Linked DNA regions of Homo sapiens: all the other regions are linked to region 1. Evidence: fine-mapped expression QTL. A gene starts in region 1. Each other region holds a variant in brackets. All regions are shown on one strand. Distances are between the middles of the regions.

Evidence for each region. PIP is the estimated chance that this variant, and not a neighbour inherited with it, causes the effect.
Region 2: its variant is the best candidate, but not a certain one, in a credible set for the expression of AP1S2 in monocytes (TOPMed, PIP 0.50).
Region 3: its variant is the best candidate, but not a certain one, in a credible set for the expression of AP1S2 in fibroblasts (GTEx, PIP 0.69).

What each region holds. Positions count from the first base shown.
Region 1 is chrX:15,853,541-15,856,345 of GRCh38, forward strand. It overlaps AP1S2 (adaptor related protein complex 1 subunit sigma 2), which reads right to left and starts at 1,273. Exons shown (of 6, transcript NM_001272071.2): 1 at 1,148-1,273. RefSeq lists silencers at 700-989, 1,210-1,489, 1,580-1,689 and an enhancer at 1,307-1,911.
Region 2 is chrX:15,903,722-15,906,526 of GRCh38, forward strand. No RefSeq gene overlaps it. Among named protein-coding and RNA genes, the nearest start is that of AP1S2, 50 kb to the left of the region's middle. The variant G/A (reference allele first, on the strand shown) is at 1,626.
Region 3 is chrX:15,820,481-15,823,136 of GRCh38, forward strand. It overlaps ZRSR2 (zinc finger CCCH-type, RNA binding motif and serine/arginine rich 2), which reads left to right. Exons shown (of 11, transcript NM_005089.4): 11 at 2,251-2,656. Among named protein-coding and RNA genes, the nearest start is that of ZRSR2, 31 kb to the left of the region's middle. The variant C/T (reference allele first, on the strand shown) is at 1,432.

The DNA of each region.
Region 1 (2,805 bases):
ACTGCAAATAAGATTCAAGCATGATTCTCAAGATTCACCACACCATCTTGAATTTGAACACGGGGAGGGGAAATTTACAGAACCAATGTAGAATAAAAATGGGCCCTAAATTTCGGTAAGAAATTATCGTCGCTTTTTGTAACCACCCAAAAAGGTATCAACAAGATATCTAGAAATGTATGACGTGGCAATTCAACTTTAGTAAAGTTAAAATGGTCTTATTACCTCACTTAAAATGCGTCAGGGGAACAAAATATAAGGACATTATTAGGTGATACCAAAGTGCCTCCCGTGCAAGTCCTGAAGATAGCGGCATTCGAAGGGGGCAGGAAGTGAAGCATCAACTGGGCATTTACTGCAAACCCGTTACCAGAACTTGGAAAAGAATGGACCTCGTATTCCTAGATCTTGGTGACCAGAAAGGGTGAGGGTTTGCCTGCGAAGAGTATGGGCTCAAGGCTGTCTGGAGCAGGGTCCTGTATCCGCCCTACCACTTTGCAGGACGAAAAAACAATGTATTCTCCTTAAAATAAATTATGTCCTAACATGGGACGAAACCCGGTTGCAAAGCACGAGTATTCCTTCCCTCGTGTTAAAAACCAACGCTTTGATTTTGCCGCAAATCACAGGGCACCACAATTCCTCGAGACTGGCATTAAAAACAATGGGCTCAGCCGCGGCGCGGGCTCGGGGCCAGCGTTCCTCGGGTCCGGCCGTCGCCGGTGCCTCCCCCCCACTCCCGTGGCCACACTCCATCACTGACCAAGCCCGGGAGAGGTGACAGGCAAGGAGCGGAGCAGACAATGGCATCCGCCGCCGCGCAGGGGGCGCCAAGAGTCCTCGGCCGCCACCGCCCCCGGCCCCTCCCGAAAGCGCCCCGCAAAACTTGAGGCGATTCCCGAACCACAGGTGCCGCGAGGCTGTCGCGGAGCCCGGGACTGGCCCCCACATCCCCGGGCGCGGCGCGGAGTGGTGCGGAGGGCGCGGACACGGAGAGAAGTGAGTTGCGGGCGCGGCGACCCAGTGGCGGGCCGGGCAGGCTCGGGGTGGGGTCGTCGGGGCGCGCGCGGGGTGGCGGGGGGCGCGCCCAGTCCTCCCTCCCCCTCTCCCCCATCCCCGGCGCCCCCTTTCGCCCCCAGGGACTTACGGCGGCCGCGGGCCGCGGGCGCGGCGGAGCTTGGCCGGCGGCGGCGGCGGCGGCGAAGGGGAAGCCCCTGTCGCCGTGCTGAGGAAGAGAAGCCGTGGTGCTGTGGGGAGGACACCCGGCTGGCATAGGGCAGGCTTAGGCGGAGAGGGGAGGGCAAGCTGACAGACCCCGCCCCGGGGGCCGGACGAGGGAGGAGCCGGGGCTGCGGCGAGCTGAGGGGCGGGCTAGGCGACGCGCGGGAAGCGGCTCAGCGGTCGCCAGCGGCACCGGAGGCAGCGCGGGTAACCGCTGAGTCCAAGGCAGCCGATTGGAGGTTTCTTCGCTGAGGGGAGGTGCGAACCGGAAGCCGGGCCACGTGACCCGGAAGCGGCGTTTGCCGGGCCCGAGCGCCCGCGCGCCCGCGCGCTCTTGCAGGTGCCTCCGGGACGCGCGCGGGCGGCTGTCCTGCTTGTTTAATGATAGGAGGACGGGATTCTGCAGCGTCCTTAGCCTAGCGGGTGGTGCGGGGCAGGGAAGTTCCGGACAGCGAAGAGCCACGTTCGAGCTCTAATGATTCTCTGTGTCCCCAGAGAGGAAGTGTGAAGTGTGACGGCTGACGAGGAGGGTGGGAGGAGACGAGGGAGTGCTGCAACTCTGGAAAAACAAGTCAGCTCTTCTGTGGAGCTCGTCACGCATTCACGGGCCTTTTGCTATCATTCTGCCTCAAAATTGTCCGGAATCCGCCCTCTCCTTCCCATTGCACTGCTCCAGCCCTAGCCCAGACACCTTCCGCCCCGAGCTTCGCGGGAGTCTGTTCCCTGGGCTCGCCTCGCCCATCCTCGGTGCTGCGGACTGGATGAGTTACCGTCCGTTCGGCTGAAAAGCCCGGACAGCACCTCACCTTCGAGATCCCGCTTCCTTCACACTGGGTCGCCCCACCAGCCGCCTGGGTTCCAGTTTAGCACTGCCGACGACTTGCTGTGCCTGGCATGTCCTTGCTCCCAAATGTCACATCTATGAAGCCTCACCCTAAAACCCTGTAAGAGCGATTCCCTCTTTCACCCACATGCCCGTTAGCCTTTATTTAGCACACCTTAAATTGTATTCATTTTGCATCTCAATCTAGTTCACAGCCTGGTATATAACAACTAATAAATGTGAGTTGACTGATAAAGACTATAAAATGATAAATTTGTTAAGAGCTGTAATGCTGAGCGTAATGCCTGGGCATAATGGATGTTCATAATTTTCTGAATGATAGAATGGATGAATCATCTAGTCATTTACAGATAAGGAAAGGGGAGTCCCACGGGATTAGGTGACCTTCCTTGAAGAGCCACGGGTTTCCCATATCGAAATGCTATTCATTACCCGAGTCACCTAGGTTCTTACAAAGGAAGCGAGAAAATTGCTTTTGTTGGGCCATGCCCCTTTTGCAGAGGTTCCTAAGTATAGTCGCCAGAATTTTTTTAATGGCCTAAAGTAAAAAAAGAAATGCTAAAATTTTCACGAAGCTAAATGTAATCAATGTAAAGGAATCCTTTATTAGGGATTATATTCTTTTTGTGTACATTATAGTATCTATGAAACTAAGACAGTAGTTTTGGGGGCTTTTAAAAAATGCTTTTGTATGACAAAACAAAAAGAAATGTGTAATACTTCCCCTTTTCAAGCACTAC
Region 2 (2,805 bases), 50 kb after region 1:
AGTGCTTAGAAATGGTACATACTATTCACTTCATCCTTAAAGAGCTGCTTCTCTTTATCATACAATTCGCATTTAGGAGGCAATTTGTTTGATAATAATAATAATACTAGTAAGTAACTCTCTTACTAGTCTTAACAGTGACTAGTAAGAGAATTATAATTCCCTCTCCCACCCCCAATCCCCACCATTTGTTAAAAAATAAAAGATGAAAGGGAGACTCAGATAAGTTAGCTTGCCCAAGGTCACGTCTTCCAAAATGGCAGAGTCAGGTTCTACCTCAGACACCTGGCTCCAAAATATGTGCTGTTTTCACTATAACTCACTAACTGTGAACTGTTATCTTTGTCATTTTGTTTAATCCTGTTTTCCTCTGTCATGAATTGGCAATTAATTTATAGTAATTTTTTTATGGTATTAGCAGTTCACTGAAAATAAGGTTGCCAGATTAAACACTAAGCAATATTTGGAACATTTTTTTTTGTTTGTTTGTTTGGCAGAGTCTCACTCTATCTCCCAGGCCAGAGTGCAGTGGAGCAATCGTAGGTCACTATAACTTCAAACTCCTGGGCTCAAGTGGTTCTCCCACTTCAGCCTCCTGAGTAGCTGGGACTACAGGTGTGCACCACCACACCTGCCTAATTTTCATTTTATTTTTTTGTTGAGACAGGGTCTTGCTATGTTACCCAGGCTGGTCTCAAACTCCTGGGCTCAAACGATCCTCCTGCCTTGGCCTCCCAAAGTGCTGGGATTACAGGCATGAGTCACAGTGCCCAGCCTGGAACATGTTTATACTAAAAAATTATTTGTTGTTTATCTGAAATTCAAATTTAACTGGGCAACCTCTATTTTTAATTTGCTAAACCTGGCAAACCAAACCAAAAATCTTTGAAAAAATATTATTTCTAGTGAGGTTATCCCCCTCATAAGGTAGAGAAACACATGGAATAGGTTGGTTACTGAGTGAAGACCTTAAATAAGTCTTCTCAAGTCTTAACGAGGGTTAAGGATTTGCCCCCTCCACCCACCAAGGGAATTTGGCAATGTGTGAAGATGTTTTTGGCATCCTGACTGGAGAGGGGTGGTGCTACTGGCATCTAATGGGTAGAGGCCAGGGATGCTGCCAAACATCCTACAATGCACAGGACAACTCCACAACAAAGAATGATCTGATCCAAAATGACAATCGTACCAAAGTTAAGTGACCTTGCCTTAAAATTTTCGCTGGTCAACCAGTAAAGAGAATTCTAACTTAAATTTTCCTTAAAAATCACTTAGTATAAAAAAAGTCACTTATTTATACTAACATAGTATACATCCAGAAGTACTATATATATAACATTAAATATATAATATTAAATATACATATACATATTTAATCCCTTTGAGGCTAGCAATACATTTCCATATAAAGATTTGTCTTTTTCTATTTCCCAGTAATATAATGCTAAAGCTGTTTATTTATCTGGACTAGTTAATTCACAATTATGGATGCTGGTAGCAGCAAAAGTTGACTCAATTTTTAAAAAATACCTTAGCATTTATGACCATAGACTATTGATTTCAGATTTGAGTCTTTACTTGTCTTTAATTATGTTCATTGAATAATGTTCTTGTACTAAGGGCAG[G/A]CTTAGAAATAGTGGTCTTGGGAAGCAACCTAGATATCAGGTTGAGCCATATGGTGGTCAAAACTGGTTGAATACTGGCAATTTAATGTGGTTTGACCTGATGTATGCTGTGCAGTTAGATGGCACAAAATGAAAATGAGCTTTAATCCAATCCATGCTTCGAATCACAGTTAGAGCCTTCGTTGGTCCCCAGAGCTGCTGTAGCTTTTGGTCCTGGGTTAGAACTTTTGCTGAGCAGTTGGAGAGGCCGTTTTAATTTTTTGTTTTAATTATTAATGGAATTTGGGAAACTGTCTTTCAGCTCTTTGCAGCGCCAGCCTTTTTCTCCTTTATCTGCATCCACGCATTTCACTGAAGTTGGTCATATAGAACTTGGGCCCCCAGGTGCACAAAATGTGCCCAAGCCTTTAATAGCAAGTAAGTCAACCAGTAAAGAGAATTTTAACTTCAATTTGTGGCCTTTAAAAAGTTGTATCCAGATTTATCTCAGGGTCCTGAAGTAAGAAAAGGAATAGTATATTATAAATGTATTTCTTTTAAGGAGCCCCTAGAGGTAGGGGACACAAGAGAAATGCCAACTGCCCCTTGTTCAACACTCTTGAAGATAAATATTTGCTACATTTTAGTGTAATAGATTTATAAAAAGAAACTTCTGTTTTTTTTAAAAAAAAGACTAAAGACAACATATACTAAAATGATTTGAATTTTACAGATGATACCCTGCTAATATTTTTAGTTCAGCACCATCTGTTTATCTGAAATTAAATTTCTAGCAAATGGTCATGCCAGGAGATGCTGTTTTTATTTTTATGTGCAGCTGAAACAGAGAATAATAAAAATCTGCTTGAGTTGAAGAAATATGTTCATAAAATGTTTCTTTTTTAATCTGAGTTGGCTGAGAAAATGACTTTTTAATCTAGTGGCAGCTGCTTTCATTTGGCTGGTTTTCAGTCTAAATAGTTTATGTTGGAGACAGATCATTTGTTTTATATTTGGATGTAGTATAATAAACAGTGTCTTTTGAGCTATGAGGAAGACCCAGATATCACAAATATCTTATTATCCCTATTAGCCTATCTTTCTAATTATTTCTTGTTTCTTTAACCAACACAAGTGGCATGCAATAGGTCTGTAAATTGAAAGTACAAGTGGCAAATTGCATATCACCCGATTGCTGTGT
Region 3 (2,656 bases), 33 kb before region 1:
TAACCGACCTCAATGAGTCACTTGATAGATGAAGTGACTGAGGTCACAACGTATTGGTGACAGAGGTGGGGCTAGAATTCCAGTCTTCCAATCTTCAGTCCTGGGCTCTGTGTCTGACAAATCAGGAAGCCTGAGGAGTTTACGTCTGTGGAAGCCCCATTTCCCTTGTTGCAGTTTCAGAGGTATTTTATATTCATTGGCTCACTTCACTTGAGCTGTTTGTTTGTTTCTTTCTTTCCATCTTTATCCCTAATGAATCTTCTGTCATGACCACCTACGTTACCTTGCCCATAGCATTTCCTGCCTTACTTGGAATAATACATCCTTCTGTGCACTAGAGACTAATTGTAGGCTTGGGATCAGTTAAACATGAATGCAGTCAGACTGACATCGGACAGTGGCAACCCAATCAGGAAATGATCCAGTCTTGTGCAGAATAGCCAGCAGTTTTGAAGGCCTAGTTATGTTCTGATTTCTCTCAGTGGACTGTTCCCTAGGTGAAAAGAGATGAGCTCTAAATGCCTCTGGGGAGCACTTATCTTACCGTTTACTTGTGTTTCTTTGCTGTATACATGCCTGCCTAACGCAAAGTCAGAATCTTTGGCAAGCTTGTCTTCCTTGGATTCTGTCATTCTGAAACCATTTATGAAGGGAAAAGAAAGATTTTAGGATTCCTGGCTAAGGGAAACCAGAAGAACCATTACACTTTAAAGGCTCGGGGGATGGAAGAGGTGGAATTGTTCGCTCCATAAAGGCAGTTACTTTTGTCAGTTCCTGGGAATCCAGTGTGAGTTCAGTGAGGAGCTTCTGAGTGTGACCTTGACTCCTCCAAAGCAGGGGACTATTTCATTAAAAAAAAAAAAACACTTTATTTTCCTTATTGACTAAAGACACTGAGCATCTTTTCATTATTGGCCATTTGTATGTCTTCTTTGGAGAGATGTCTGTTTGGATCCTTTGCCTATTTTCTAACTAGGCTCTTTGTCTTTTTATTATTGAGTTGTAAGAGTTCTTGGTATATTCTCCATACAAGTACCTGGTCACAAATATGATTTGCAGATATTTTCTCCCATTTTGTAGGTTCTTTTCACTTCATGTTCTTTTGAAATACAAGTTGTAAATTTTGATGAAATCCAACTTAACTATTTTTTTGTTTGTTTTGGTGTCACATCTAGGATGACATTGCTTAGCCCAGGGTCACAAAGATTTACTTGTATGTTTTCTTCAAGGTCATAGTTTCATTTCTTAACATTTAGGTCTTGGATACAGTTTAATTTTTGTATATAGTATGTGGTACGGAGGTATTTCACTTCTAACTGTTGTGCATATCTGGGGAATTTACTGCTTTTAAAAAACGTTTGAGAACCCCAAAGATCTCAAAATTGTTCGAATAGATTTTATCTGTGATAAGAATCTTCTGTATTAAAAGCA[C/T]TTAGTGAATTTGAAGCATTAGTGTAATGTTTATAATCTTAAAGTTTAAAGAAAATATAGACTCCTCTATGTTTAATAGGCCTTCTCTTTTTTTTTTGAGAGTGAGTCTCACTCTGTCGCCCAGGCTGGAGTGCAGTGGCATAATTTTGGCTCACTGCAACCTCCACCTCCTGGGTTTAAGTGATTCTCATGCCTCCGCCTCCTGAGTAGCTGGGATTACAAGCGCCTGCCACCACGCCCAGCTAATTTTTGTATTTTTAGTAGAGATGGGGTTTCGCCATGTTGGCCAGGCTGGTCTCAAACTCCTGACCTCAGGTCTGTGCCCGCCTCAGCCTCCCAAAGTGTTAGGATTACAGGTGTGAGCCACCGCACCTGGCCACGCCTTCTCTTTTGACCAGTGGTTCTGGCCTGTTTCCTCCATGCCATCAAACCGTGCTACCACAGGGACCCAAAGAGCTGGCTATTTGATGTTAATCAGGGATCAAAATCGTCAATCAGTGGGAAGGTGAAACCTGGAGAAGATAACGTGGTCACCATTTGCTCAGTTGCAGTCTGCACCATAATCCAACAGGGGCACAGGCTATTCTGCTTAATGAAAACTTCTGATTTGTTACCTTTCAGAGTGTCATTTATTAGAGCACGTTTGAAATCGTGGGAACCAAATTATGACATCAATTTATGTAAGCCCCTTTTACATAATACACAGTAGAAAATAGTTCTAGCATATCCAAATATCAGAAATGTACCTTCGGAAAAGGATAAAGTAGCATCTTCAGAATATGCAGTGATAAGTGCTGTTTCATCACTGTGCCATTGCAGGTTTATTTGAAATACAACAATGTCCAAGAGGAAAGCACTGCAACTTTCTTCATGTGTTCAGAAATCCCAACAATGAATTCTGGGAAGCTAATAGAGACATCTACTTGTCTCCAGATCGGACTGGCTCCTCCTTTGGGAAGAACTCCGAAAGGAGGGAGAGGATGGGCCACCACGACGACTACTACAGCAGGCTGCGGGGAAGGAGAAACCCTAGTCCAGACCACTCCTACAAAAGAAATGGGGAATCCGAGAGGAAAAGTAGTCGTCACAGGGGGAAGAAATCTCACAAACGCACATCAAAGAGTCGGGAGAGGCACAATTCACGAAGCAGAGGAAGAAATAGGGACCGCAGCAGGGACCGCAGCCGGGGCCGGGGCAGCCGGAGCCGGAGCCGGAGCCGGAGCCG